Linked DNA regions of Homo sapiens. The protein of the gene in region 2 binds, or shares a complex with, the protein of the main gene of each other region. Each region holds a gene or a part of one and is shown on either strand. Other genes may lie near its edges.

The links.
Region 1: MED21 (region 2) and MED31 share a complex: the UniProt entries of both Homo sapiens proteins name them as parts of the mediator complex.
Region 3: MED21 (region 2) and MED23 share a complex: the UniProt entries of both Homo sapiens proteins name them as parts of the mediator complex.
Region 4: MED21 (region 2) and MED13L share a complex: the UniProt entries of both Homo sapiens proteins name them as parts of the mediator complex.
Region 5: MED21 (region 2) and MED24 share a complex: the UniProt entries of both Homo sapiens proteins name them as parts of the mediator complex.
Region 6: MED21 (region 2) and MED12 share a complex: the UniProt entries of both Homo sapiens proteins name them as parts of the mediator complex.
Region 7: MED21 (region 2) and MED16 share a complex: the UniProt entries of both Homo sapiens proteins name them as parts of the mediator complex.

Annotation. Positions count from the first base shown.
Region 1 is NC_000017.11:6,645,151-6,649,026, reverse strand, and holds part of MED31 (mediator of RNA polymerase II transcription subunit 31), read left to right. Parts: intron 1-3,876. UniProt on the Homo sapiens protein: Component of the Mediator complex, a coactivator involved in the regulated transcription of nearly all RNA polymerase II-dependent genes.
Region 2 is NC_000012.12:27,024,938-27,028,724, forward strand, and holds part of MED21 (mediator of RNA polymerase II transcription subunit 21), read left to right. Parts: intron 1-1,482; coding exon 1,483-1,597; intron 1,598-2,409; coding exon 2,410-2,510; intron 2,511-3,347; coding exon 3,348-3,524; 3' UTR 3,525-3,787. UniProt on the Homo sapiens protein: Component of the Mediator complex, a coactivator involved in the regulated transcription of nearly all RNA polymerase II-dependent genes.
Region 3 is NC_000006.12:131,589,588-131,594,066, reverse strand, and holds part of MED23 (mediator of RNA polymerase II transcription subunit 23), read left to right. Parts: intron 1-895; coding exon 896-1,061; intron 1,062-1,606; coding exon 1,607-1,679; intron 1,680-2,539; coding exon 2,540-2,754; intron 2,755-3,624; coding exon 3,625-3,745; intron 3,746-4,470; coding exon 4,471-4,479. UniProt on the Homo sapiens protein: Required for transcriptional activation subsequent to the assembly of the pre-initiation complex. Component of the Mediator complex, a coactivator involved in the regulated transcription of nearly all RNA polymerase II-dependent genes.
Region 4 is NC_000012.12:115,959,371-115,963,849, forward strand, and holds part of MED13L (mediator of RNA polymerase II transcription subunit 13-like), read right to left. Parts: intron 4,150-4,479; coding exon 4,037-4,149; intron 2,029-4,036; coding exon 1,896-2,028; 3' UTR 1-1,895. UniProt on the Homo sapiens protein: Component of the Mediator complex, a coactivator involved in the regulated transcription of nearly all RNA polymerase II-dependent genes.
Region 5 is NC_000017.11:40,029,758-40,034,236, reverse strand, and holds part of MED24 (mediator of RNA polymerase II transcription subunit 24), read left to right. Parts: intron 1-780; coding exon 781-892; intron 893-1,030; coding exon 1,031-1,181; intron 1,182-1,474; coding exon 1,475-1,588; intron 1,589-2,146; coding exon 2,147-2,194; intron 2,195-2,616; coding exon 2,617-2,699; intron 2,700-2,991; coding exon 2,992-3,078; intron 3,079-4,377; coding exon 4,378-4,479. UniProt on the Homo sapiens protein: Component of the Mediator complex, a coactivator involved in the regulated transcription of nearly all RNA polymerase II-dependent genes.
Region 6 is NC_000023.11:71,135,125-71,139,603, reverse strand, and holds part of MED12 (mediator of RNA polymerase II transcription subunit 12), read right to left. Parts: coding exon 4,351-4,479; intron 3,324-4,350; coding exon 2,949-3,323; intron 2,726-2,948; coding exon 2,575-2,725; intron 2,418-2,574; coding exon 2,221-2,417; coding exon of another isoform or gene 2,212-2,220; intron 2,047-2,211; coding exon 1,969-2,046; coding exon of another isoform or gene 1,879-1,968; coding exon 1,661-1,878; intron 1-1,660. UniProt on the Homo sapiens protein: Component of the Mediator complex, a coactivator involved in the regulated transcription of nearly all RNA polymerase II-dependent genes.
Region 7 is NC_000019.10:890,029-894,935, reverse strand, and holds the start of MED16 (mediator of RNA polymerase II transcription subunit 16), read left to right. Parts: upstream 1-1,748; 5' UTR 1,749-1,850; intron 1,851-3,786; 5' UTR 3,787-3,804; coding exon 3,805-3,973; intron 3,974-4,691; coding exon 4,692-4,799; intron 4,800-4,907. UniProt on the Homo sapiens protein: Component of the Mediator complex, a coactivator involved in the regulated transcription of nearly all RNA polymerase II-dependent genes.

The DNA.
Region 1 (3,876 bases), on a different chromosome or scaffold from region 2:
GTTTGCACCTTTTCTGGCTTTTTATCCATTTAATAATCCAAAGAACAGACTTTTAAGAAAAGTAGACTTCAACGAATATTGTATGTATGTAGATTTACAGACTCAGTGTTGGAAGCCTTAGCCACCAACAAGTTTAATCTTACCCACAACGTTGCCGAGAGATGGTCATCTACACTCTGGAGGTTTCCATTGAGCCCGTGTTACTCTGTCAGGGACAGCTGATTCGATTGTTAGCCAGATATTAGAAAGTTCTTCCTTATATTGTGATATAATGTACCTCCTTGTAGCCCCAGTCTGTTTGTCCCTGGATGAAGCTAGAACCATTCTATACCCTCTTGAGGACAACAGCCTTCCAGATATTTACATTCAAGAGAGACTGCAAATTAGCCCCTTTTGGGTGTTTTATTCAGTCTGCAGAAGATTTTAGTTTTTTTAATACTTGCCAACATTTAAAGATCAGAAAGTTGTATATAACAAATGCAGATTTCCAGCTACTCTTTCAAATCTGGAAGATCTAGTAACCATAGATCTTAATTCTCCCAAGTCAACAACTGGGCTGAAGCTGAGAGCAGCTGTCACTACTAGCTGCTTTCCACCTGGTGGAAGAGACACTTTCTACCACTTGGCCTGCTTCATTGATAGCCAGTAGGTGCCACTATAACATCTCTCTTCCATCTATTTTTCTCAACTACCCTCTGCCATTGTGCCATGGTGTCCAGAGTTCTCATGAGTTGAGGTTCCCTCCTTTGGATATTTGGCAGTTGTACTTTATGCAGTTCAGCCAAGAACTAAACACAGGCCTTCAGGTGTGGTCAGAGTACAGTGGGCCAGAGGTCCTTTCTTTTCTTCATGTGGTCATACACCTCTGTTAATTCAACTTAAGTTTATATTACTTTTGGGGGTGGGAGTGGGGAAGAGGATCACATTGTTGACTTGCTGGAAGCATTATGTCAACTAAAATCCTTCAGTTCTTATTTTCATCATGCTGTTGGGTTCTCCCTATGTTGTTTCTTTTTAAAAACACCAAATGCAGAACTTCCCTTTTATACTGCTTCTATTTCATCTTGTTGACTTGTAGCCTATCAGAGTATGATTCTTTATTGTCATCTAAGGTATTCTGATATAATCACTGCATGTCTAAATTCTAGTTATTGACTAAATGCTACTTGAGACCATTCTCTTGGTTGTCACATTATTTTACAGTTGAAGAAACTGAACCTTAGAGAGGTTAAGTACCTTGTTAAAGGCCACCTGGCTGGAACATAACATCCTGGTCATTTTAACTACTAATGCTGTCATGAAAGGGAGTTAGCCAGGGCAGGTGTGAATAGAGCATTCTAGCATAAGCAGCCAACAATTAGAGCAACTGTGTATTTTTAGTGTGTGGATAGCAAATCTTTGCTGTCTTGGAAGTTACTATCTTAGAAGCATGGTATTAAGCCCTCTATTCAATGTGGTGTTCACATCAGTAGCATTGGTTTCATTTGGGAGCTTTTTAGAAATGCAGAGCTCAGGCCCCACTCCAGGCCTAAGGATTCAATCTGCATTTTAAGAAGTGACCCATATACACATTAAAGTTTTAGAAGCATTGCTGTAGTATCCTATTTTCCACACTTTAGTCATTTGCATATCACTTGTGCAACTTTGGCTTTATCTGCATACTTCCTGAAGGGGGCCTGCCCCTCCACACCTGTGGGTATTTCTCGTCAGGTGGAGATGAAAGAATGAGAAAAGAAATAAGACACAAAGTATAGAGAAAGAACAGTGGGCCCAGGGGACCGGCACACTCAGCATGCGAGGACCCGCACCAGTGCCGGTCTCTGAGTTCCTTCAGTATTTATTGATCATTATTTTTACTGTCTTGGCGAGGCGAGTGTAGCAGGGCAACAGGTGGCGAGAAGGTCAGCAGGGAAACGTGAGCAAAGGAATCTGTATCATGAATAAGTTCAAGGAAAGGTACTGTGCCTGGATGTGCACATAGGCTAGATTTATGTTTCACTTTACACAAATATCTAACTAGCAGAGAGCAACAAAGCAGTATTGCTGCCAGCATATCTCGCCTCCAGCCACAGGGCGGTTTTCTCCTATCTCAGAATAGAACGAATGGGAATGGTCGACTTTACACTAAGACATTCCATTCCCAGGGACGAGCAGGAGACAGAAGCCTTCATCTTATCTCAACTGCAAAGAGGCCTCCCTCTTTCACTACTCCTCCTCAGCACAGACCCTTTACAGGTGTCGGGCTGGGGGATGTAAGGTCTTTCCTTTCCCACGAGGCCATATCTCAGGCTGTCTCAGTTGGGGGAAACCTGGACAATACCCAGGCTTTTCTGGGCAGGGGTCCCTGCGGCCTTCCGCAGTGCATTGTGTCTCTGGTTAATCGAGAATGGAGAATGGCGATGGCTTTTACCAAGCATACTGCCTGCAAACATATTGTTAACAAGGCACATCCTGCACAGCCCTAAATCCATTAAACCTTGATTCAATATAGCACATGTTTCTGGGGGCACAGAGTTGGGGCTAAATTTACAGATTAACAGCATCTCAAAGCAGAACAATTTTTCTTAGTACAGATCAAAATGGAGTTTCTTATGTCTTCCTTTTCTACGTAGACACAGGAACAATCTGATCTCTTTTCCCCACACTTCCTATATGTTAATGTATTTTAATTGTCTGTTAGCTTTTATGTCTTTTCAACTTGAAATAATTTCACTTACAAAATAGCTGGAAAAATAGTAAAGATAATTCCTGTATTTTGTTCACCCACGTATTCCAAATGTGTAACACTACAATCAGCAAAAATCAGCACATTAATATTATTACCTAATCTACAGACCTCATTCACATTTTGCCAGTTGTTCTGCTGGTGTGCTGTATGTAGTGCAGGATCCAGTCTAGGCCCGTATGTTGCATTTTGCTGTCATGTCTTCTTAGTCTCCTTTCATCTCAGTGGTCTTTTCTTTTCCATGACTATGACAGAAATGATTTGTATCCTTCATATATCTGCAGTCACATGAAGTCTATTTGTCCCACTACTGGTGACGTAAATTTTGGTAACTTGGTTGAGGGTGGTACCGTCTAGGTTTCTCCATATTAAGTTGCTATTTTTCCTTGTGTATTTAATAAGTATCTTATAGGGAAATCCTTTGAGACTATGTAAATATCATATTACATGTATTTTGCCTGTTTTAGCATCTTTTGAAGATAATTGCCTGAAACATTTTTTACTGTGATGATTTTCTAATTCTATCATTCTGCATTTATTAGTTTGGAATTCGATTGTAAGGAATTATATTCCCTTGTTTCCTATTATTTTATTAAAGAAATTTACATCCATTTAGTGTGGACTTTTGGATTCTTATTTTTAGTAGAATTATGAATTAGAATTATGTATTTTCTTGCGCTAAGTATTCCAGATTTGGCCATTGGGAGGCCCTTCAAGTTGGCTCCTGAATACTTTTGATCCTCCCAGGAATTTTTAGCACTTTTTCTTCTGGCACTACGTAATGTTCCAGGCTCATCTTGTACTTTTCCTGTCTTATCCCTGAATCACCCTTTTCTCCAAGGAAACCTGCTCCTTGGAAACCACAGTCTGGTCATTGTGTGTTCATTAGTACCACAGTGTCATTGCTTCTAGGCCCTGTCAGTACACAAAGCTCAAGAACTATATATATATGTATGTATGTGTATACATGCACACACATATACATGTTTATTCTATGTCTATATTAAAAGCCGTAAGTACATACTGATGTTTTCAATACCAGCTCAGTAACACAGGGTTCATTCTAGCCTTTTTCCTTTCCATGTCTATAACTCCTTTTCTGATAGCCAGAAATTTGGCTGTCCTTATCCACAGTATATTTGCTTGTCCAA
Region 2 (3,787 bases):
GAATTATTTGTATAACTTTTAACATTTGTTCTACCCTCTGAAAACCGTGAGTGCAGAAGCTATGTCGCATTCACTATGTCTCTGTAGTGTTTATATGCAGTACTTTAGTTATTTTCCATAAATTTTTGTTGACTAAATGGATCTTAAAAGCTTTTGAAGGATGGAAAAGATAGACACTGTGTTGAATATTTTTTTGTGTGTGTTTCCTCTATTACAACAATGCTATAATAGGAGAATGTATCCAATTTAAAAATGAAAAATGCTGCTTGGATTAATAGAGCTAGGATCAGGATCTAGGTTTGTATAGCATCTGAGCACTTATTGCTCCATTACAATTAGCAAAACCTGGGCAAAGCCATTTAGTCATAAGTGACTTTATGACTAGTTAGATAAATATGAAGGAGTAGTGGAAAACGAGTCAGTAGAGTTGACTTAGATTATTGAAAGCTTCAAAACAGCCTGAGTTGGAGATTTATCTTGAAGACAGTGGTGGAGTAAGCTTAAATGTTTTGATCAGGTTAAAATAAATAACCTGGTGAACTGGAAAACAACAAGAAGACTATTGTAATAATTCTGGTGTGAGATAATTGGTTGAACTAAGCAACAGTGATAGAAGGAAAAGAGAAAGATTTGTAGTATTAGCAGAATATGAAGATCAAAGGAAAGTAAGAATCTGAAGTTAGATTGGTTGACTAGGAGACTTTCAATACAAATTAAATATTAAAAAGAGGAAACAGTTGCCTTTGAGTTCTGTCATTGAAACAATGGCAGAGAAACCCAGTGGAAATACTTATTAGAAATAGGAGGTTTGAGAGGTCAAGACTAGGTGAGAGAAATTGGTAGGGAAGATAGGTGTATTTAATTTGGAGATGGTAAGGAATTGCTATTCCCAATCTTTAAAAGTACTTAAGGAATACTTTTAGAGTACAAGAGTTTACAAATTGAGTCTTGAACAAATACATTTCTGCTTACTTAAGGTGCTTTTCTGAGCAGCCTCTTCCTCACTATTTCTTTACACTTGTAACTACTCCAGTCTCAGAAAAGGAATCATATACTTTGTGCATGAGAAATAAATTTTTATTAAACATGGTGCCATAGATATTTACAAGTCAAATTTGCTCTTTTCCATCACTATCCCCAAAAAGTCTTTACTTGTGGCTTACAATAAGTATTGGCCAATATTCTCTTATCATTTTACTATCACAAGAAAAGAAAGATTATTTTGTATTTCAACTGTTTCAACTAGATTTATATCAAATTTAACTTTACCTAGATTGATACCAAACTTAGTTTCTTTGCAGAATTAAAACGTTTAATCAACATTAATAATAACTGGCTTATTTTATCAACAATCACTCCTTTCTGTTTTATTCCCTTGCTCAGAGATTATCATTACAGAAACTTATTGTTGTTGCCATTACCAATAAAGTCCTTAAAACTGATAAGTCCTTTCTAACCTTGATATGTTTTCTTTGGCCTAAGCTTGCAGATCAGTTTTGTAATGCCATTGGAGTATTGCAGCAATGTGGTCCTCCTGCCTCTTTCAATAATATTCAGACAGCAATTAACAAAGACCAGCCAGCTAACCCTACAGAAGGTAAACAGGTTTTCTTAGCTTCTCTTAGTTTGACTCTCACATTTTTTGTAATCCTTTAAAATTAGATTTCTTGAGAAATTCAGCTTATTTTATTTCTAAAATTATTGTTGTTTGAGAATATTACAAGTTTTGTTTGTTGTAAAAAATTTACAGTCAATTCACCTAACATCTCATAATTCTGGTTCATGTCAGATAATAGATTGTTACTCCTTTAGAGGAGAATTTGTATTAATTTAGCTGAGTGAGGGACCTTAACAAGGAAGGCATCCCATTTATAAATTTCTTTATTCAGGTGACCACTATATTGTCATAATAAATGAAATTACATACATTATGCTTAATTCCCAATTTGAGCTAAATGTGTAACAGGATTGGTGTATATTTTAATCATTAGAATCTTCTTTTTTTTTTTGAGACGGAGTCTCGCTCTGTCACCTAGGCTGGAGTGCAGTGATGCAATCTTGGCTCACTGCAACTTTCGCCTCCCGGGTTCAAGGAATTCTCCTGCCTCAGCCTCCTGAGTAGCTGGGATTACAGGCTCATGCCACCACGTCTGGCTAATTTTTGTATTTTTAGTAGAGATGGGGTTTCACCATGTTGGTCAGGCTGGTCTCAAACTCCTGACCTCGTGATCCGCCTGCCTTGGCCTCCCAAAGTGCTGGGATTACAGGCGTGAGCCACCACGCCTGGCCGAATCATTAGAATCTTAGGGCAGAAAAAGCTATATGAAGTTTCTGGTTTCATTAACTTAAAATTTGTTTCTGAAAACTTGAGGTTTTCTAATATCCTAATCTAGCAGTATCTTTCTCTAGAGTATGCCCAGCTTTTTGCAGCACTGATTGCACGAACAGCAAAAGACATTGATGTTTTGATAGATTCCTTACCCAGTGAAGAATCTACAGCTGCTTTACAGGTAAGCCTCTATTCCTTTGAGAATTTTACCAGTAATAGAGAATTTTGAATTAAAGGAGGTAGATTTAGTACCTTTTGTCTGTGTCCATTTGTGCTGCTATAACAACATACCTGAGACAGTAATTTATAAAGAACAGAAATTTATTTTCTCACAGTTCTGGAGTCTGGGAAGTCCAAGATCAAGGCATTTATTACTCACTGTGCATGAGTAATGAATTTTTATTAAACATGGTGCCATGTTTAGGGCCATGTTGAGGGCCTTCTTCCTGTTTCCTCACATGGCTGAAGGCAGAAGGGCAAAAGAGCAAGAGCTCCCTCTTCAACCTCAAGCCATATTTTAAGGGTACTAATTCCATCTATGAGATCTCTGCCTTCATGACTTAATATCCTCTTAAAGGCCCCTTCCCTCTTAATACCATCACATTGGGGATTAGATTTTAATGTATGAATTTTGGAGGGGATGCATTCAAATCATAGCACCTTTTGTTATAATATTCAAATTTCCATTATAAGGAAACCTCTTATTTTCCTCAATTTTGTCTCTTTTCCTAGTGAAGAATGAGAGGAGGGTGGCATTCTACAATTGGAGTAGAATAATGGTGTCTAAACGTAATGTGTAAGGGAGTCACTTAAAGATATCTAGAGATCTCTAATTGAAAAGTCATTCTTTTTAATAATTCACATGGGGAAAATTCTTAAAAGTTGTCTGATTTTTAGAATTTCTTTACTGAAAAACATATCACAATGATTGCAAAGTCATCCAGATTTAAAAATAAGTACATCTGTGACAGCTTCTCTTTCTAAACTCTAAAGATTTTAAAATTTGTGTCTTATAAAGGCTGCTAGCTTGTATAAGCTAGAAGAAGAAAACCATGAAGCTGCTACATGTCTGGAGGATGTTGTTTATCGAGGAGACATGCTTCTGGAGAAGATACAAAGCGCACTTGCTGATATTGCACAGTCACAGCTGAAGACAAGAAGTGGTACCCATAGCCAGTCTCTTCCAGACTCATAGCATCAGTGGATACCATGTGGCTGAGAAAAGAACTGTTTGAGTGCCATTAAGAATTCTGCATCAGACTTAGATACAAGCCTTACCAACAATTACAGAAACATTAAACACTATGACACATTACCTTTTTAGCTATTTTTAATAGTCTTCTATTTTCACTCTTGATAAGCTTATAAAATCATGATTGAATCAGCTTTAAAGCATCATACCATCATTTTTTAACTGAGTGAAATTATTAAGGCATGTAATACATTAATGAACATAAT
Region 3 (4,479 bases), on a different chromosome or scaffold from region 2:
AAATAACAGTATTTTGATTTATGAGAATATATTTTTTCTTTTAAAGTAATTTTTTATGTATTTCAAGGTTTTAATTTTTTTTAAGATCACTTCCATTTTCATCTCTGTAAAGATTTGAAATCTTAAATTAACAGCATCATGCCAATTAGGCTGAAATTCTGTTAAAATTTTTATTTTAGAACTTGAGGATAAGCGGTAAAAAAATTATATTTAAAAATAGACTTTATGGAGATTTGTTTCAAAGAAAAAATCTTATTCTTACATACTATATTTTGTAGCACATGCATCTGTGTGCTACTGGAGAACGTAGGATCTTGTTACTTTAAAAAAATTAATGTTTGTAGTAAATAATAAATGATAAAATATATTTTTCTTTATTGAAAAGGTATATTTTAGTGAAAATATACTTGGATGTTTATTTCTTCATTTTGATTTTATATTTTCAGTTATTAGCACTCTATACTTAATGTCTATAACCATACCACTATTTTACTAGGTAAGAAATTCTACATAAATGAGCATGACTTATTTTCCTACACAAAGGAATTTATTTTCTGAAGCAAAAGAATGACTCATTAGAAAATAATTTTCATATTAATGTCTTATAACTATTAAAAGAAATAGGCTCATGAAACCTAGGTAAACCTTGGTTGCATCTGTGGCTATTATATGTCATATTTATAAGAACCCACCTGAAAGACCAACCATTTATACCTGTGGTTAATCAAATGGTTGCTTTTAATACATTTCAATCATGTCAAACTCATTTGTATTTGGTTTGCATTTGCCTCTTAATCTCTCTAAGCGTAGACAAATCACTTCTTGGCAGCTCATAATCAGATAAATTGACAATCAGATGAGATAGTCCAATTGTTATTGCTTTAACTGTGTGCACCGATGGCTGGCAAATCTCCTGGTCCCTTTCCAAACTGTGACTGGAGATTCAATGAGTTTCCCAACCCAGCTGCCCATGCTCTCCATGTTACTTGTGTGGAGCTCATGGCCTTGGCAGTTTCAGGCAAAGAAGTTGGGAATGCCCTTCTAAATGTTGTCCTAAAAAGGTATGTATTCTGGTTCATGCAGTAAGATTTGTTGTTTATTTGTAAATAGAATGGTATTCTATTTCAAACTTTTAAGACAAACCTGTTGCCGCAAGGCTGATGCACATTGGATGATGACTGTTTTCTGGTTCCAGATCTTGTCTTTGTGATATAGGAGTTATGGAATGAGCCCTGGACAGGATCCTAAGATCCGGGTTTGTTCCTACTTCTACTCATTAATAGCAGTTTGACATTTAATATAGGAATAATGTTAACTTGTCACTTAAAACAAGATTCTCTTCATCTTGTTTTCAAGATTTCAAGATTCTTTTAAAAATTAGCATGAAGTATGGGATAATGATTGGGGAGGAAGTATTTTTAAAAAGCCTTCTTGAGTTTTTATGCATATTACATTTTTATTCAATAAAAAATTCCCCATTGTTTTATTGAAATGGATTAGTTGTCGATCCTCTGAATTAGACATATTCTTTAAAAATAAGATCCGTTGTCAGCCATCTAAAATGTTTTTATAAATTCATACTTACATTCTTTTTTGCCGGTTGCAGTCAGCCTTTAGTGCCAAGAGAGAACATTACAGCATGGATGAATGCAATTGGTTTGATCATCACTGCCCTACCAGTGAGTTAATAATTGTGATTTGTACTTAGTGATGAAATACAGCCAGCTGTTCCATGTCAGCAAAAAGAAAAAGATGCATATAGGATGCCCTTGTACGGGACGTCATGCAAATTAATGAAGTATTTTATGTTTTTAAAGTTTTTTCATATTATTACTGCTTTAAAAATCTACAGTGACTAGTTTTTGCTTTTCTGTATTAGATCTAAATATATCTATGTGACTTACGGGTCTCTGCATTTTCTGGTACCACCTTACCTATCCAACTTTAGTTTTTACATAATAGCTTGATCTACTCTTGGCCACTTAACGTGTTGTATATCTACAGCCTTTGTTCCTTCAGATAGTGCTTAAGACATGTTTTAGGTACTTCTGAATGTGAGGGAATAAGACATTTTTCTTATTCCAGAAGCTTCTTCTTTCCATCACCTTCTCTAAAGCCTATTCATTCTTTGCTAGCTTAGAGCCTCCTTTCTCAGTGAATGAAGCCTTCCCTGACTTTTCCAGCTCACATGAAGACTCCTTTCTCTGACCTCCACACATATTTTTTTAAAGTTTATTATTTTTAAATAAGTAATAAAGCTATAGATTTATTGTTTGATAAATTAATTGATTTACTGCATAGTGTATATCAGGTACCTAAATGAGCTGGACAGATACATGTATGGAGCCCCTTAACTCACAGTTACTTCTCCCAGGTTGTTACTGACTTAATTTGACCAGTTACAAAGCCACCCAGCTGTATTGTGCAGAAGCTGGAAAAATAGAAAACTTTAAAGAATGAGAAAACACTATTACTTTAGACTTTGGGGTGGAATGCTGGATAAGTGATATTTTTCACTAGCTTTCCTCCGATTTTAAAGGAGCCATATTGGATTGTTCTTCATGATCGAATTGTGAGTGTCATCAGCAGCCCCAGCTTGACGTCTGAAACAGAGTGGGTTGGCTATCCATTCCGCCTCTTTGATTTCACTGCCTGTCATCAGTCCTACTCTGAGATGAGTTGTAGCTATACGTTAGCTCTTGCACATGCTGTGTGGCACCATTCTAGCATCGGACAACTTTCTCTCATTCCAAAGTAAGTATAATAATTTCTTAAAGAAATTTGACGTAGGCTGGGTGCGGTGGTTCATGCCTGTAATCCCAGCACTTTGGGAGGCCGAGGTGGGCAGATCACAAGGTCAGGCGATTGAGACCATCCTGGCCAACATTGTGAAACCCCATCTCTACTAAAAATACAAAAATTAGCTGGGCATGTGGTGTGTGCCTGTAACCCCAGCTACTCGGGAGGCTAAGGCAGGAGAATCACTTGAACCAGGGAGCTGGAAATTGCAGTGAACCAAGATCGCGCCACTGCACTCCAGCCTGGTGACAGAGTGAGACTCCATCTGAAAAAAAAAAAAAAATTGTATTTCATTTTGTTCTAATCTCATTAACAGATGAGGTATATACTTCATTCATTAGAACAACTTGCGGCTGGGCGCGGTGACTCATGCCTGTAATCCCAGCAATTTGGGAGGCCGAGATGGGTGGATCACAAGGTCAGGAGATTGAGACCATCCTGGCCAACATGGTGAAACCCCGTCTCTACTAAAAATAAAAGAATTAGCCAGGCGTGGTGGTGTGCACCTGTAATCCCAGCTAGTCAGCAGGAGAATCACTTGAACCCAGGAGGCGGAGGTTGCAGTGAGCCAAGATCACGCCACTGCACTCCAGCCCAGGCAACAGTGTGAGACTCCGTCTCAAAAAAATAAATAAATAAAAATAATCAAGTGAAAGTAATAGCCAGTGAGAGATGTGAGATTAATTAGAAATATTATTGTTACCAAATTAAAAGGAACTTTAAAAAATTATATTTTATTGTAATACTTTGTATATACTGTATGAACAAAATTCAAACAATTTAAATAATTTCAAGTCACAGGAGATTTTTATCTTCAAATTTTAGGTTTCTTACTGAAGTACTTCTTCCTATAGTGAAGACCGAATTCCAGTTGCTTTATGTATACCATCTTGTTGGACCATTTTTACAAAGATTTCAGCAAGAGAGAACTCGTTGTATGATAGAGGTAAAATATAATCTGGGTTTCCTGTGACATGATTAAATTCTGAAGTATCTATTTAAGTTTCTTTACCAGTGTTATTGAAACTGCAGGTCACAACCATTAGTAGTGAAACTAGTTTAACAGGATCCAAGAGCAATTTTAGAGGACTTAGTTTGCCAGTAATGAATTTAGGGTGGGATGTATTGAATTGGAGATGCAGAGGAAACGCCCATCATGAAGGTTGAGAAGAGGTTAAGGATGGAGAAGTACATTTGAGATCTTACAGTGCAGAGGAGCTAATTAAAATCATGAGAATGGATGAAGTCAGTCACTTCTAACAAAATGTCGCAAACAAGGAAAGGACCCAGGAGTAGAACCTTAAAGCAAGAGCTACCAAATGGAACTAAGAAAGTATAATCCAAAGGATCCCTAGGAGTGGAGTTATCCCAGACATCGAGAGATGGTGTCTAGAAAGGGGATTGTTTATCTCTTGATTTTAAGAGAAATTACTTAACTATGAAGAGAAATTTTATTTAAGCCTTGTCAGGGGCATTTTGTAGCACTATAGATTCTTTTATAAATGCAAGCCATATCATATCTCATGTGCATAGAGGTGTATATGGTATATGACAGTTCTACAGCAAAGACAGTATCCCCCGGTGCTAGTGTTGTAATGGAGCCCAGCTGCATCATGCTGAATTACTGAATCACTTGATCACTTAAATAATTTTACATTATTTGTTAAATAGATTGGTGTG
Region 4 (4,479 bases), about 89 Mb from region 2:
TTAAAAACAGCCCATTTAAAAAAAAAATTCAAAGTTCTGATGAATTCCGGGAAAAAAGCAACCCCAAAGTGGTAAAAGATTACAAATATCTACTTTACAATTTGTCTTCTCACCAAGATAATTTTATACAAGTTTACAATCTTCATCTTCTTATGCTCTTCAAAAGGCCTTGAGAATTTTCCTTTCTGATTAAGAAAAAATAGCACTGCAATATTTTTAAAGTCAATTTTACACTGTACACATTAGATACAAATGGTTTGATATATCAGATTTTTTATCCTATACATTGCGAAAGTCAACCCCCCCTTCAACTGGTGGTACAGAGAACAAAATTATCCATTTACAAGTTATTTCTCTGCTTTCACATTCCCACCACACAACTTTTTTTTTAATATAATGTTTTAAACTTTAGATTATTTCAAGAAAAATACTTTTACAAAATCATATCAATTATTACATTTTTCCTTTTTTGTTAATAACCAGGACATGGAAGTCTCTTGGAAGAACTTTTAAAATTTGCATGATTCTCTCCACAGATGACAAGAGCTCAAAGGCCTGGTCACAGTGGCTCCCGGGAGGCCAGTACACACCCACTGTCCTCAGACAGAAACACACAACACAAGGGTTAGAAACAGGGTTTCAAAGACAACCCTCTGGGCCAGGAATGAGGAGTCATAAAATACTTCAATTAGCCATTAATGCTTTAAAAAGGCATTTTTTTAAAAAGTCCCACCACAAAGGCTCAACTTCAAGTACTAATTTAATGGTTAAGTTGTAATATTTCTTTGAAATAATATTCCTATGGTCCAGAAAAAATTCACCATATTTATAACTGATTTCATGAGCAAACACTTTCAATTGTTGTATGTACATAAGTCCCTTTTGATCTAATGAGAGGAGAGACCTGGCTTCCAATAAGAATTCACTAGAAAATATATTTCCGTTGTGACTATATAAAACTAATTAAGGTACTTGCCTCCATGGCTCTGAGTTGAGCTTGACTGCCTTCTGTATAAAAATGTTATCCTTCATGAAATGCTGGCCACTTAACATGGCAGAACTTTTAAAATCCAGTTTGTTGTTAACAAAACCTACTGCTGGGTGGTTTTGAATATATTACTTTTAGGCATGATCTCCCCAATGTGTTTTTACTCCTTTTCCGGCTTCTAGGACAGAGGTATGTAGTCAAAGAATCCTATGGTGGATCTGAATTGGGTTTCAGCTACTGTACCTGGTCCTTGTGAATTAAAAAAATAAAGTCACAAAAACCATATGACAAAACAAATTAAAATAAATAAACAAAATGAAGCTGTCTCCAGACCTTCTGCATTGACACACAGGTTTGAAGTCAACCAAAGCACTCATGCTAATCTGGATGGGAACACTAGGGAGACAGAAACCCCAGTATGAAACCATGTACTTGAGCTGGTTCTTATTTTTAAAAAGTCCCAGATTATGGAGTTCAGGTAACCCACAGGCCATACACCAGTAACTAAGAGGATTTCATCCAAAGGGCTAGACTGCCCTCAATTGTATACAGAGGCTGAAAACACAGACTCTTGTGCAAAAGGACACTGTCTCTTCTGTTTCCCGCTGAAAAGCCATCAACCACCACCACTTCCTGGGGACCAGTGGTTGGGGCTACACACACCACCGCACTGGCTGAAAGTCACCACTTATGGAAGTTTCCAGGTCCATGAGAGAAGTGTCAAGGAGTCACTCTGGTAATGAACACTGCAGAATTGACATGTGCCTGCTGAGAAGGAATCACAGTGCAGGACTGTGGAGAGTGGTCTGAAGAAAAGGATGTGGGTTATTTGCAGAGTGTAGCAGGTTCCTTGGACTGAGGTTGCAGGGAGAAGGAACTGAGCCAGAGAGAACAAGTGCTTTTCCAATTAAAGTATATTCATGATGGCATTGTACAACTGAGTGAGCACCACAAAGTGGACGGGAAGGCAGGAAGTACGGTCCTGGGTGGCCGGATTGCACGTGAGCCAGGACAGAGCGTTGTACTGCTCCAAAACAAACCTGCCAAAGAGAACACACAGAGCAGGGGCGTGAGCCTCAAGAGGGAAGGCTGGTTCTCAGATTCTAATACATTCCAGATCTTAGCAGGAAGGAGGTCTCAAAGGCATTCCTTAACTTGCCCCAGGCTCTTTCCCTCATCCTTTGTCTCATGTTCCTCCTTCCTTCTAGATATGGACTATCCAGTACAGTAGCCAGCAGCCACACATGGCCATTGAGCTCCGCCAGTGAGGCCAGTAGGAACTTGCGTGGACTGCAGGTAAAGTAGGCACTGGAGCCCAAACACTTAGGGGCCAGGTGCAGTGGCTCACGCCTGGAATCCCAGCAACTTTGGGAGGCCGAGGTGGGGGTGGATCACCTGAGGTCAGGAGTTCAAGACCAGGTGGCCAACATGGTGAAACCCCATCTCTATTAAAAATACAAAAATTAGTCAGGCGTGGTGGTGCATGCCTGTAATCCCAGCTACTTGGGAGGCTGAGGCAGGAGAATTGCTTGAACCTGTGGGCGGAGGTTGCAGTGAGATCATGCCACTGCACTCCAGCCTGGGTGACAGAGCAGGACTCCGTCTCCAAAAAAAAAAGAAAAAGAAAACGAAAAAAAGAAAAGTATGTAAAATATTTCATGAATATTTTTATATTGTTACATGTTGAAATAACATTTTGAGTATATTGAGTTAAATAAAATATATTACTAAAATTAACCAGTTTCTTTTTACTATTTTAATGTGGCTAACAGAAAAATTTTAATTAGATTTGAGGTTCACATTGTATTTCTATTGGACAGTGTTCCTCTAGGGCAGCAGTCTCCAACCTTTTTTGGCACCAGGGACCAGTTTCGTGGAAGACAATTTTTCCACGTGGTGGGGGATGGTTTCAGGATGAAACTGTTCCACCTTAAATCATTAGGAGTCTCATAAAGAGTACACAACCTAGATCCCTTGCATGTGCGGTTCACAATAGGGTTTGTGCCCCTATGAGAATCTAATGTCATTGCCTGACAGGAGGCGGAGCACAGGCTGTAATGCTCGCTCACTTGCTACTTACCGCATGCTGTGGGGCCTGGTTCCTAACAAGGCATGGACGGGGGTTGGGGACCCCTGCTCTAGGGGGCCTGGAAGCCAAATTTATGTTGATCAGGTTCTTTATTTTTATCCATAACTATAATTATACATTAATCTATAATATATAGTTTCCTATCATTTCCTAACCATTTAAGAGTTAGAAAACATTAGAAAAGGCCTGTATATTTTCTCAAGGTAGATGAAGAATGCCTGTGGCTTGATTAATACACACTTCTGGAATGCACTTCTCAACTATGTCATTTATGTTCTAGTCCATTTTTAAAAAAACACATAATCGGTGGCTCATGCCTGTAATCTCAGCACTCTGGGAGGCTGAGGCAGGCAGATCATGAGGTCAGATCGAGATCATCCTGGCTAACACGGTGAAATCCCGTCTCTACTAAAAATACAAAAAATTAGCCGGGCATTCTGGCGGGTGCCTGTAGTCCCAGCTACTTGGGAGGCTGAGGCAGGAGAATGGCATGAACCCAGGAGGCGGAGTTTGCAGTGAGCTGAGATCACGCCTCTGCACTCCAGCCTGGGTGACAGAGCGAGACTCCATCTCGAATAAACAAACAAAAATACATAATCTATCTCAGGAAGCATAAAAAGTGTTTTCAATGTGAGGTGCTTTAAGAGTTCCAGACACTGTCTTCTAACTATCCACCCCCAAGATCTGACCTCTCTTCATCACCATGAAGTGCCTGCTCTGAACAGGAAGCAAAGGCAACTATAAATGCCTATCACTGCCTAACTGAATCCAATGTATTACACCGCCTGTCCCATGCAGCTATGAGGGACTGCAGCTCTCACTGACTCATCAGATACTGTATCACTGCACAAACGGCAGCTTCTATGAATACCACACTTAGATTAAAACACCTTGGAAAGACAACAGTAAAGGAATATTGTTTCAAATTGCACTGCTATGATGCCTAGGTTGGTATCTACCTTAAAACATCCGACGTGGTTTTGGAGTCAAGAGGGTGTGGAACCCGCTGAGAATTCCTGGCAGGCAGAAGTTCGTCTGTCTGTGCTACTGAAATGTGGTGATGCAGCGAAGCCTGGTGAAAAAACAAAGAGAGTTACCTCTCTGGTCTAGACAATCACAGTGCAGAAGTGAGGGAGGCCATGTCTGCCAGAAGCAGATGCTCCCAAAAGTCCGTAGAAGTCAGGGTTTCTGTGAGTCTACAAATTTTAACCTGCTCAGTAACCCCCAAGGTAATCCCAAATAACTTCTTATCCTAGAGTTGGAAAAAAACAAAAAAAAAGCAAACTTTTTGGGCTTTTTTTGTCTACTACATTTTGTTTCTTCAATGGAAATAGTCTAGCACACACAAAAATACTATAATATATAATAAGGTCCCATGAATTGATATCGCCAAGATGCAACA
Region 5 (4,479 bases), on a different chromosome or scaffold from region 2:
AAAATCGGATGAATACTGAATTTTAATGGATCTCAGGTCTTGTCTTTTTTTCCCCCTTTTATGCTCCATGGAGGTTAATGGGCTAGTTGGTGCCATTATTCATCATTTGACCCTCTGGAATTGTAACTAGGATAAGTAACTTATAGTTCAGTGCTAACCAATATGGCTTAGACCATGAGTGTGGGCATTAAGGAGAGAACAGTGAGTTAGACCAGTCGGGTGAGTTGCTAAAGGAACTGGGGCTTGAACAGAAGCTTAGAGCATGGTGGGAGTTTGAGAGAGAGTGTGTAAGAGGCCTTCAGCAGGGGAGGGCAGCAAACGCAATGCCTAGATGAGGGAGTGGTTGAGAATGAGAAAGCCATTTAGGGACCCAGTTCCCCCAGAGGAGAGTGACAGCCTCTGCAAGACTGGACTTTGGGATCCGCTCACTCCTCGAGTGATTTGTGGCCGCCCTCCCTGTTCCAGCCACTGGATTCTGGCCTCCCTCTGCCTCTCTCTCCTGAGCCTGTGTGATGCCATACCTTCTGAAGTCAGCTGGCTGTGTCCCCTGGAAATCAGGCTTTTGGGAATGGTCTCTGGGGTTTCCAGCTCTAGGTGCCCACCCCCCTTCTGGAAACAGTGCATGCTGCCCTCAGGCCCCTCCCTCCCTGTTGTCCTCAGGGGAAGCCTTCCTGTGTGGTTTCGTGTGCCGGAGGGAGTGCCAAAATCGAGGAGTTCAGGGCCAGGTGCTCCTTCTCTCCTGTTTCCCATCATGTTTCTGTACTTCCTTCCCTCTGCCAGCTTCTTGGACTGCCATCGAGCATTCTCTCTTGAAACTTGGAGAGATCCTGGCCAATCTCAGCAACCCGCAGCTCCGGAGTCAGGCCGAGCAGTGTGGCACCCTCATTAGGAGGTACCGGCTCCCTGGGGGATGGTGGAGAAGGGAGAGGGAGGACACGCCCTGGGGTAGGAAGATGTGGCACCCGTGCCATCCTCTCCGCCTTCACCTTTGGCCCCCCAAACACCGTCCCCTGTGTTTGTGACCCCTCAGCATCCCCACGATGCTGTCTGTGCATGCGGAGCAGATGCACAAGACCGGCTTCCCCACTGTCCACGCCGTGATCCTGCTCGAGGGCACCATGAACCTGACAGGCGAGACGCAGTCCCTGGTGGAGCAGCTGACGATGGTGAAGCGCATGCAGGTGGGAGGGGCCGAGTGGCTCTCCCTTCTCCAAGGCAGGCCAGCCTGTTGGGGGCAGGAGGGAGGATTCTTCTGGTTCTCCCTGGGAGAAGTGGGGTTTCTCCTGCTCCATGATGGAAAGTGGGTGCCAGTCGTGCACACTTCTGTCATTGGACCTTACTCCCCTGGTTCTCAGCACATAGCTGAGCAGTGACTCTGCCATGCAGTCTCTGACCCAGCCAAATCCTCAGAGTCCACAGAAGGGTGACGGGGTATGGGCACCCTCTTAGGCCTCATCCTTGGCTCTTCCCACAGCATATCCCCACCCCACTTTTTGTCCTGGAGATCTGGAAAGCTTGCTTCGTGGGGCTCATTGAGTCTCCCGAGGGTACGGAGGAGCTCAAGTGGACAGCTTTCACTTTCCTCAAGGTACTGGGGACGTGGGAGGGGCAGAGCCAGTCTAGGAATGGTTCTTAGCAAGACCAGTGGCACCCTGGACCTTTGCCCTGTGTTCCTCCCTGCGGGCACTGGGCCCAGCCTGCCAGGTATTCCAGTGCAAGTTCCCATTGATCATTTTCTCTGAAAGTGCCAGGGCTATATTTAGCCCATTTGGCAGACTCCGTTGTTTCTTACCACAGAGGTGCAGTTTAGCTTGGTCATCAGACAGATAGGTGCAGGGCAGTAAAGGGAGCCAGGGAAAGGGGCCCCAGTCCTCCTTGAAGCTGGGGATCCACTTTTGCTTATGGCATCTTTTTCTGTTGAGCTAGCGGAGGTGCAGGGTGCTTGTGTCCTGTGCCTAGGCCTGGGGGCATCAGGGGCCTGGGCACCTATTGGCTTTCTCATTTAGCACTAAGTGTGCTCTCACTCCCAGGGTAGGAGTGTTCCTGTCTCTCTTCCTGGAGCAGGGGTTCGGGGGGATGCCTTCAGGGGTAGATGAAAGAGAAAAGAAATGGATCTTCCTGTTTTTCCCCCTGCCTCACCCCCTAGATTCCACAGGTTTTGGTGAAGTTGAAGAAGTACTCTCATGGAGACAAGGTGAGTTGGGGATTGAGATGGAGGCATGGGAGCAGAAATAAGGGCAAAGGGGAGGGTCCTTCAGGCCCCAGCTGGGCAGTGTTCTCATGCCTGGAAGAGAGCCGGATGTGAGTGTACACCTCAGCGTGCACGTGCTTCACAATGTGCATGCTTCAGCATGTGCGTGTGCTTCAGCATGTGCGTGTGCTTCAGTGTGTGCGTGCTTCAGTGTGTGTGTTTCAGCGTGTGTGTGCTTCAGCGTGTACGTGTGCTTCAGCCAGTGTGTGTGCTTCAGCGTCTGCGTGCACCCACAACATACACCCAGGCTCCAGGCAGAAAGCAGCCAGGCAACTCAGGCCGATGCCTCCAGCAGACAAGGTTGCCTGAGATGATCAGGGCCTGGTGGCCCTGGAAACCAGATGGACACTTCTGCCTCTTTCTAGGACTTCACTGAGGATGTCAACTGTGCTTTTGAGTTCCTGCTGAAGCTCACCCCCTTGTTGGACAAAGCTGACCAGCGCTGCAAGTATGAGCTCCCCTGGTCACCCCCGCCCTACTGGAAGGCGTTCTGGGCTCTTCCCCTGATCTCTGTGCCAGAGAAGCCTCAGGGGACTCTGTCTCCTTGTTCACTCCCCTTGGCAGGGGCAGGAAATAGGAGCCCACAGTTGCCAAGTCCCCAGAGCCCCTCTACCGTCCCTCAGGCACTCCAGATTTTCCTCATCCTGAAAGAGGGAGGATGCTGCTCAGGGACCTGCCACTCCCACCCCTCACCATCCTATCCAGGTGCCCAGTTCCCTCAGCATCTTTCTCCCTCACAGCTGTGACTGTACAAACTTCCTGCTCCAAGAATGTGGCAAGCAGGGGCTTCTGTCTGAGGCCAGCGTCAACAACCTTATGGCTAAGCGGTAAGTGTGAACGCACCTGTGCTACCCCAAGAGCCCCTTGACCTCTCTCTTGTTACGGTGGGGCTGCTGCGTGCCTTTCAACCTCCTGTCGAAAGTTTGGGCTGCAAGTGACTGGGACCGTGCCTGGGGGTACAGGGAACAGGAAGGAAAAGAAAGCACAGATGTCTTCAGACCAGAGTTTTACACTCTTAGTCACTGCTCTTTAACTCATACCCATCTTTGTGATAAAAGTAAAAATCCTAGGCTGGAGGCGGGTGGATTACTTGGAGGCCAGGAGTTCAAGACCAGCCTGCCCAACATGGCAAAACCCCATGTCTACTAAAAATACAAAAATCAGCTGGGCGTGGTGGTGTGTGCCTGTAATCTCAGCTACTCTGGAGGCTGAGGCACGAGAATTGCTTGAACCCAGGAGGCGGAGATTGTGGTGAGGCGAAATCATGCCACTGCACCCCAGCCTGGGCGATAGAGTGAGACCTTGTCTCAAAAAAAAAATAAATAAATAAATAAAAATCCTGAATCTTCCTTTAATCTTAAATGTGCTTTCAGAGCATTTAAGACTAATGATAGGCCGGCTGCGGTGGCTCACACCTGTAATCCCAGCATTTGGGAGGCCAAGGCGGGTGGATCACGAGGTCAGGAGTTTGAGACCAGCCTGGCCAACGTGGTGAAACCCCATCTCTACTAAAAATACAAAAATTAATCAGGCGCGATGGTATGCACCTGTAATTCCAGCTACTCAGGAGGCTGAGGCAGGAGAATCACTTGAACCCGGAAAGCAGAGGTTGTACTGAGCTGAGATCGCGCCACTGCATTCCAGCCTGGGTGACAGAGCGAGACTCTGTCTCAAAAAAAAAAAAGACTAATGATAAATTGCCAGGTGTGCTGGCTCACCTGTAATCCCAGGACTTTGGGAAGCCAAGGTGGGTGGATCACCTGAGGTCAGGAGTTTGAGACCAGTAGAACATGGTGAAACCCCGTCTCTACTAAAAATACAAAAAAGTAGCCAGGCGTGGTGGTGAGCGCCCAGCTACTCTGGAGGCAGAGGCTGCAGTGAGCCGAGATCGTGCCACTGTACTCCAGCCTGGGCAACAGAGTGAGACCTGTCTCAAAAAAAAAGACTAATGCTAAATCAGTGATTGCAACATTGACTATGCTTCCATAAACTTCACCCCAACCTCGGAGGTTCTTACATGCTTCCCACCTCCTCTGCGCATTTCCTTCCGGGCTTGAACGAGGGAACGTGTCAAGAATTTCTCTTCATTCCTCTTCCCTTCCTTGGCCAACTGGTGATGTCCACAGCAAAGCGGACCGAGAGCACGCACCCCAGCAGAAATCGGGAGAGAATGCCAACATCCAGCCCAACATCCAGCTGATCCTCCGGGCGGAGCCCACTGTCACAAA
Region 6 (4,479 bases), on a different chromosome or scaffold from region 2:
TTGCACCTTCCAGTACACATCCTATCCATTCATTCCAAGGAACCTTGCAACATACCCAACTCCTCCTATCACTCTTCTGATCAAAAGAGCCCTTTCTGGGACTGCGTCTCAATTCTTCGGCTGAGCATTCAAGGCCATCTCTCAGCCTGCCCCCTCCTAGCCTAGCCCCAGTGACTTCCCCAGCACAGATTTTACACTCCATCCAGGCCCTTCTCCCCAGGCACCATCCTCATTCTGGTCCCCATGTCTTTGTTCACGTTACATCCTCTACCTGGAATGCCCTTTCTTTTCCTCTTCTCCACAAATCCCAATCACAGCTATTCTTCAGAGGCCAACTCAAGTCTGACCTCCTTCATGAAACATTCTCTGATGAGTCAGGCCCACAGATATTACCACGTACTTTTTCTCAATCCACATTTTACCTCATAGCATACAACTGCATACCTGATTATATCTTTGCTCAGAGTGTTCTCTCAATATTCTTCTATAAGTCTCATCTCCCCAGCTATAGTAAAGATTCTTTGTAGTGAGGAACTATGTATCGTGGGGGTTTTTTTTGCTATCTTTCTTCACCTCACCCAGTCCTGGTATAGTGCTGGCCACACAATGGGCAGTTAGCCCACTCCCCAGTGTTCTTAATCCTAAGCTTCAGAGTCTCTATACATGGTTACAAGGCCTCAACTAAGGCTTGACTAACGTTAACCATGGTGGGAGGATTCATTCATTTGTCCATCCTGGTATTTAACCTGGTATTCAAAGCCGGTACTGGCTTTACGACTCCTTATCATGTAGTTCATCTATGAACTCCAGATATTTTTTTCTTTTTCTTTTCTTTCTTCTTTTTTTTTTGAGACAGGGTCTCACTCTGTCACCACTGGAGTGCTGTGGCACAATCTCGGCTCATTGTGCGATTACAGCTCACTGCAGCCTCAAACTCCCAAGCTCAAGCAATCTTCCCACCTCAGCCTCCTGAGTAGCTGGGACTACAGGCATGCACCAACACGCCTGTCTAATTAAAAAAAAATTTTTTTTTGGCCAGGTGTGGTGGCTCAGTTCAAGACCAGCCTGGGCAACATGGCGAAACCCCATCTCAACTAAAAATCCAAAAAATTAGCTGGGCGTGGTGGTGTGTGCCTGTAGTTCTAGCTACTTGGGAGGCTGAGGTAGGAGGATCACCTGAGCCTCAGAGGTCGAGGCTGCAGTGAGCCATGATCATGCCACGACACTCCAGCCTGGGCAAATGGAGTGCGACTCTGTTTCAAAAAAATATGTATTTTTTTTGTAGAGATGGGATCTCCCTATGTTGCCCAGGCTGGCCTCGAATTCCTGGAATCAACTGATTCTCCCACCTTGGGCCCCCAAGTGCTGGGACTACCAGTGTGAGCTACCACACCCAGCCCAGATTTTTCCTTGAGTCAGATAAACAATTTCCCCTCTCTGGGCCTCAAAGAACTGTTAAGGAAGTAGTCATGAAACTATTGGTCTCCAGGGTCCCTTCCAGCTCGAGACTTCTGTGGTTATGGGCTATGTGGCCAGATAAGTATTCTTGATGTCTCCGAAAGTTCTGACCAGTCCCACCACTTTCAGGCACAGGCTTTCCCAAGTCAAATGCTCCCTTATACCTCTGCATCTCTTCCTAGCTCACCACTACTTTGGGTACCTTTGAGTGGAGGTCAGTCCATGTCCATAGGTGGGGGCCTGCTGGTGCACATAGCCACTGGGCCGCTGTTGCAGGTGGCGGGTAGGATCTACAAGAGTAGGATTGGTAGAAGGGTGGGTGCTCTGGTAAGGCTGGCTGGAGTAGCTGGGGGGCACCATGGTACCTGCAGGGCCTGTGTGTTGCTGCAATCCCACATGAGAAACATAAGGAGTATAGCCCTGGAGGGAAGAAGGAGAGAGGGAATCAGGGCCGAGAGTATGCAGAGCAGCTTGCCTCATCCCCCTAGTCTCACAATCCCAGGCTCTTACCTGGGAAGTCTGCAAACCGTAGGAAGAGCTGGGAGTCATCTGATGGACAGATGACTGTCCCAACATGCCCTGACTCTGCTAAAGGGAGAAAAGAGAACAACTCAAACTCAGGAAATGCTTGCTGCCATCTCATCTCTTGTGTCTCCCACCCTGAGTGTCCTTGTGAAGATCCCAAGTGTCTCCTCCGTCCTGTGACCCTCAAAAGCCCCTCTCCCTGACAGCCCTCCCTACTGCCCCTCTCACTATCTTTGCCTGGAGCTGTTGGCGAAGGCGCTGTCCTTGGGGCACCGCAGGTTGCTGCTGCCGGTACACAGAGGTCTTATAAGAGGAGGGTTCTAAACCCATGACGCCAGTCATGGTTGTGGGCAGCACTCCAGGGTAAGTTGGTCGGGTGGGCAGCTTCTGCATTGGTAAGCGCACAGGACGGTATGGGTCCACACGAGGGCCACCTGAAAAGGAGAGTGGGCTGACCTCTAGGCTCCTCATCCCTCTGTCTCTTGCTCAGTGTCCTTGACATCCATAGCTCCTCAGGGGAATGGCATCATCCTTTGGGCAGGGGGAGTGTACAGGTAGGTCCCTCCAGCATTCCTAGTGGCTGGCACTCACCTGCAGGTAGTGGCTGGTTCTGGGTGTACAGGCCTATGGAGCCTTGCCTGTAGTTAAGGTGTGTTATAGAACCAGGGTTTGGGTGGTGCAGGAGGTCCGGAGGCACTGTCACACCATAAGGGCCGCTCCGACCCGGGCCCATTCCATAGTCCTGTGTGAGTGGCAGAGGAAGAGGGTGAGTGGGTTGTAGCTGAATGGGGTCGGGGAGCTGGGGGAGAATGAGGTAAAGAGGAGCTGAATTCGTATATGGTTAATTTTTATTATGATTCTAATGGCACCCCTTCCTTATGCGCCCCCACCCCTCCCACAAACCAGAAACCGGAGCGTCATGAAGTGAGAGGCTGTGGGAGAACTGTCACGGGGGAGGCGCTCACCTCTGTCTTGGTAGCTGGCTGGCTGCGTTTCTTGCCCTTGGTGGACTTCTTCTTGCGTTCCTCAGTACTGGGTGGAGCAGCCCCCGGTTTGTCAGTTTTGGGGGGCTCTGGAGCCTTTTTCTCAGGCTCTAGCAGGGTAGGAGCAGGCGGCTCCTCATCTTCTGGGGGCAGTGGCAGTGGCTCCAGGTAATAGGCGCGGGGCCGGGGCCTCAGGTGTGTGTGGTAGAGCAGCAACCGCTGCTGCTCCTCTCCTCGAGCCACTCGCCGGTCCACTCGGACTGTTCCAAACCAGCCCCAAGAGAGTGGTGCTGACGGCTTCAACCCCTCAAAAAGATCCCAGGGCGAGATCTTCTGTTTGGTGGAAACCTGTAGACCCTGCTCCAGAAAATGAAAAACAATAAGCTGTTGGGACTTAGAAAACAGAAGACTGCAAGCATTTGTAGGAATGGGTAGAAAGAAAGTCATAGGCAGATTCAGGAGAGATGGTAAGAAGCAGACAGACAGACATGGATACACATATACATGCGGAAGAGAGTTATGCGGGGAGAGAGTGAAGGGTGGGGCACAGGGAGAGGTGTGGAGGCACAAGATGAAGCCAGCCCAGACCAGGAGAGGAGATGAACTAACGGGGCGGGGGGCGTGTGGGGAGAGAAGATCGGGAGAGAAAGGGGTTGGGGAGAAAGCCAGAGAGGGAGCGGGGAGGGAGAGGGATTGACATTCAGAGGAAGACAGAAAAAGGAAGGCAGAGAAAGAGAGAGAGGAAGGCAGGGAGAGACTCTGCCTTTAGGCAGGCCGAGAAAGAGTCAGAGAGAGAAAGAAACAGGAAGAGAGAGACAAAAAGGTGGAGAGACAAAGAAAGGCAAACGAGTCAGACAGGGAGAGAGACAGAGACGGAGGAAAAGAGACAGATGGACTAGGAAGACAGATGAAGAGAATGTATATATGAAGGAGTTAGACTTTGGGTTTTAAACTATACACAATAATTATGGTTACTCAACAAATACCGCAACTGACAGAGAGGGAAAAGATAAAAGTGTGCAGAGATGGGTGGGTGTAGGGAAACACAGAAATAAAAGAGATACAGGCTGTCGGCCAGATAGATGGGTGGGGTAGGACATGGGGCAGGTGGAGCAGAGGAAAGAGGAGGGTAGGGTATTGAAAAATGGGTGGTATGTTAAAAGGTGAGGGCAGGGTGAAGGAAAGAGGGTGGGACTTCAAAGATGGAGATGAAATGTAAGGAAAGTTAAGTGATTTGCTCAAAACCCCAGAGATGGTGTTCACCGGCAGAGACTGATGGGCTCCTGAATCTGATGAGTCTGTTGGAGCTACAAAGCTGATGCAGGCAAAGTTCTTGCCCAAAGGGGAAAAAAGGCAAGGGACACGGGCAGACAATGGAACATGCCTCCTTCTTGAAGATGGAATCGAAGCCAGCAATCTTGTTGCCCTTGGTATCGATAAGGGAGCCCTGTGGCTCACACGTGATGACATCTCGGGTCTGCTTGGGCAGTGGCAGCAGCTGGCGAACCTTTTC
Region 7 (4,907 bases), on a different chromosome or scaffold from region 2:
ATTTTTGTATTTTTAGTAGAGATGTGGTTTCAACATGTTGGCCAGGCTAGTCTCGAACTCCTGTTCTCAGGTGATCTGCGTGCCTCAGCCTCCCAAAGTTCAGGGATTACAGGCCTGAACCACCTTGCCCAGCGCCCCTCCCTCCCCAACCCTGCTAATTTTTAATTTTTTTTTGTAGAGACGGGGTCTGGCTATGTTTCCCAGGCTGGTCTCAAACTCAAGCTGTCCTCAGACCTTGGCCTCCCAAAGTACTGGGATTACAGGTGTGTGCCACCACACCCGGGCCGCTAAGAACGTTAAATCCCTACCTGCTGCCTGGGAATGGGGATTTTCTGTAAGGTCACTGCGTGGCCCTCTTGGAGAACTGAACCCTGATCCAGAAAAAACACTCTGATATTTGGGCCATTGTTAACCTGTAATTTTAGAACAGTTTTATATTTGCAGAATTCTTGCAAAAATCATGCAGTGAGGCCGCGGTGGCTCACGCCTATAATCCCAGCACTTTGGGAGGCCGGGGTGGAAGGAGGGCTTGAGGCCTGGAGTTTGAAATCAGCCTGGGCAACATAGTGAGACCCCATCGCTATTAAAATTTTGAAAAAACAGGCTGGGCGCGGTGGCTCACGCCTGTAATCCCAGCACTTTGGGAGGCTGAGGCAGGCAGATCACCAGGTCAAGAGACTGAGACCATCCTGGCCAACATGGTGAAACTCCGTCTCTACTAAAAATACAAGAATTTGTTGGGCATGGTGGTGCGCGCCTGTAGTCCCAGCTACTCGGGAGGCTGAGGCAGGAGAATCGCTTGAGCCTGGAAGGCGGAGGTTGCAGTGAGCTGAGATCGCGCTACTGCACTCCAGCCTGGGCCACAGAGCGAGACCCTGTCTCAAAAAAAATAAAAATAAAAATAGAAGAGCACCACATCCATTGCATTAAACTGGCTTTTGGAGGAGGAGGTGGGAATAGGGTTGGAAGTAGGAATACTCAACGGGGTCGGTGACTTCGCTTACAGTTTCCCCACTCTTGGACATTAGAAAATGGAAGAAAGGCCGGGCGCGGTGGCTCACACCTGTAATCCCAGTACTCTGGGAGGCCGAGGCGGGCGGATCAGGAGGTCAGTAGATAGAGACCACCCTGGCCAACATGGCGAAACCCCGTCTCTACCAAAATACAAAAATTAGCCGGGCGTGGTGGCGCATGTTTATAATCCCAGCTACTCGGGAGGCTGAGGCAGGAGAATCGCTTCAACCCGGGAGGCGGAGGTTGCAACAAGCTAAGATCGCGCCATTGCATTCCAGCCTGGGCAACAGAGCAAGATTCCGTTTCTGGGAGGGAAAATGGAAAAAAAAAAAAAAATATGGAACGCTTCACGAATTTGCGTGTCATCCTTGCGCAGGGGCCATGCTAATCTTCTCTGTATCGTTCCAATTTTAGTATATGTGCTGCCGAAGCGAGCACGAATATTGAGTTCCACCACCAGCTATTTAAAGCCCCTGGAACAAATGTCTGTACACATAGGCCGACTTCTCTTAAATGACCTAGAGATTTAACCTCTATTTATATTAGCCCAATGTGTAATGCAACTAACGTAGTTATTGACTGGAGTTGAGAAAGTGCTCGTTGTTCTACCAAATATAGCTACGGTGGCTGCTGGGAATTACTGGAAATGGTCGTATGCAAATAGCCCCGGAGGCGGGGCAGAGCCTGAGCCGCACCGCCCTCCCAGAAGTCTTTGGGAGGCGGCCCCACGCCTCAGGCGACTGGTTGTTACCGAGGAAGATGGCGGCGCCAGACCCGAGGCGCTAGGGAAGATCGCACCGCGGACGCCCGCTGAGCTTGGCGCACGGGCCGACCAGGTGAGTGCGGGGCTGCGGGGGCCCGGCGAGGGCGGACGGACCCCTGACCGTGTCCACGGACCCGAGGGAACGCGGCGCAGCCGTGGCGGGGCCTGCGGGGTCGGGGGCGTGGCCGGGAGCAAAGGCTGCTGGGTAGGCGGCCTGGGGCGCGGGGCGCGGGGCGCGGGGCGCGGGGCGCGGGGCGCGGGGCGCGGGGCGCGGGGCTCGGGGCTCAGGGTTTGCGGCGGAAACCTGGGGGAGGCCTGAGGCCCGCGGGGCTGGGTTCGGGGCGGGGCCTAAGGAGAGTTTGGGGCGAGGCTGAAGGCGCTTGGTGGGACTTCGGGGGCGGGGCCTGGAGTGGGTTTGGGGTCGCCGGGGTGGAGCCTGGGGACTGGGGGGCTGTAGAGGCAGGGCCTGGAGACTGCGGGGTTATCGGTGCGGGGCCTGGAGAGGGAATAGGGTCCCTAGGGTGGAGACTGGGGACTGCGGAGTTATAGGGGTCTGGAGAGGGTAGGGGGTCCCTGGGATGGACCCTGGAGATTGGGGGTTATAGGGGCGGGGCCTGAAGAGGCTATGGGGTCCCTGGGATGAAGCCTCGTATTTGGGGGCAATAGGGGAAGGGCCTGGAGAGTACGTGGGGTCCCCGGGGTGGAGTCTGGGGACTGGGGAGTTTTAGGGGTTGGGCCTGGAGAGCTAAGGGCGTTGGAGGCTGGACCTGGAGAGTACATGGGACCCCTACGGTGAAGCCTGAGAATTTAGGGTGAGGCCGTGGGCTCAAGGGGTGAAATGAAGTGTGGGAAGCAAAGGGGGTCAGGGGTGGGGCTGAAAGACTTTTAGAGGCTTGTGGCGGAGCCTTGGGGGTCTGGGGCAGGCCCTGAAGAAGTAGGGAGCCGGGGTTAGGGTTTGAGGAGAACCTGGTTGCGGGTGATTCCAGGCTCCCTGGGCTTTTGCCTTTGCGAAGCGAAACAGCCCGTCTGGATGCCAGGCGCTTAGAAAGCCTCGAGGAGGTGCCCCCTCTGTTCCCTGTGACACTCAGCCCCCGCCTCGGCCACAGGTGTTCCCCAACACACTCAGCCCCGCCTCGGCCACAGGTGTTCCCCGTCACACTCAGCCCCGCCTCGGCCACAGGTGTTCCCCGTCACACTCAGCCCCCGGCTCGGCCACAGGTGTTCCCCATCACACTCAGCCCCGCCTCGGCCACAGGTGTTCCCCGTCACACTCAGCCCCCGCCTCGGCCACAGGTGTTCCCCGTCACACTCAGCCCCGCCTCGGCCACAGGTGTTCCCCGTCACACTCAGCCCCGCCTCGGCCACAGGTGTTCCCCGTCACACTCAGCCCCCGCCTCGGCCACAGGTGTTCCCTGTCAGTCAGCCCCGCCTCGGCCACAGGTGTTCCCCGTCACACTCAGCCCCGCCTCGGCCACAGGTGTTCCCCGTCACACTCAGCCCCCGCCTCGGCCACAGGTGTTCCCTGTCACTCAGCCCCGCCTCGGCCACAGGTGTTCCCTGTCACTCAGCCCCGCCTCGGCTACAGGGAGCCGCCCCACCGCTTGCCTGTCTGCGGGCTCTTCCTTCGGGAGAGAGCTAGTGTCCACTTGCTGCCCCCATCATCACTCACCTGGGCCAGCGCAGACCCTCCGCTGCGTCTCCCGGCTGTGCCCTTGGCCCCCATGGTCTGTTCCCTAGACAGCCAGAGGGGTCCTGGTGAAACCCAAATAGGTCCCAGCCCTCCCGGGCTCCCACCTTACTGAGAGTAGAAGCCCACAGGCCCAGGACTGGCCCTGACCTCTCCATGTTCCCCCTCGGCCCCAGCCCCAGGCTCTGTCTGGCCTCCGGGCCTTTGCATCGGCTGTTCCCTCTACCACGGGCCTCCATTGTTTTCCCACTTCTGGCCTGGCACTCCACATGCCCTGGGTGCTCAGCCAACATAGACGTCCCACCACACCTCCCTCCCGCAGGAGCTGGTGACTGCCCTCATGTGTGATTTGCGGCGGCCAGCGGCAGGTGGGATGATGGACTTGGCCTACGTCTGTGAGTGGGAGAAATGGTCCAAGAGCACCCACTGCCCATCGGTGCCCCTGGCCTGCGCCTGGTCCTGCCGAAATCTCATCGCCTTCACCATGGACCTGCGCAGCGATGACCAGGGTGCGTCCCCCTCCCACCTGCTTCCCCTCCCGGCCGCATGGTGTCCCGCCCTGTTCCCCAGGTGCCCGGCCCACTGCCTTGAAGGGACTCGGTCTCTCAGGCCACCTCTCACTCACCCTGGCCCTCCTCTGTAACTTGTGTGAGAGCCTCAGCCTCCTGGGGGTACAGAGGGTGGATTCAGTGCCCCCCAAACCTGGTGCCAGGAGACATGAGATCGCCCCGTGTGCGGGATCGAATCGGGCTGGAGCGTTGGTTGACGGAGGCTTGTTGGAGACACGTGCCCCAGTTTTCTAGACGGTGTGTGTCACTGGTTTTTGAAAGGTGCGTGGTGGCTGTGCCCGTCTTCTCTCCATTGTTTGAGTAATAGGCACTCATAATACGTGGTCATTAGAGAAAACTAGAAAACCACAGAAAATTGGAATCAAATCGGGGTGCAAAAAAGCCACCTATTATCTGCTGTGGAGAGGCTCCCACTGTTCACATTTCGGAGTCATTTTCTTCTAATCTGGTTTTAAAGACACAGTTGTGGCGCCTCACAGGCCTGCTCTGTTCCTGCGGGGGGACAGCCTGTTCCCTGAGCTGTCGACTCGGCTGACAGCAGTTCTGTGACCTTCCTGGGGTGGGACACACACCGGCTTACCTGGAGCCTGCCTGGAGTCATCGTCATCGTCTGCAGGCTGTGGTGCCAGGCCGTGCTGACCATGCCCCGTCCCCACAGACCTGACCCGCATGATCCACATCCTGGACACGGAGCACCCCTGGGACCTGCACTCGATCCCCTCAGAGCACCACGAGGCCATCACCTGCCTGGAGTGGGACCAGTCAGGTGAGGCGCTGGTCCCACGTGGCCAGGGGTGGCGACCCGGATCCCGGAGCAGGGGGGCCCTGTGTTTCTCCGGTCAGTCTGGAGTCCGGCGCTGGGTCTAGAGCCCCT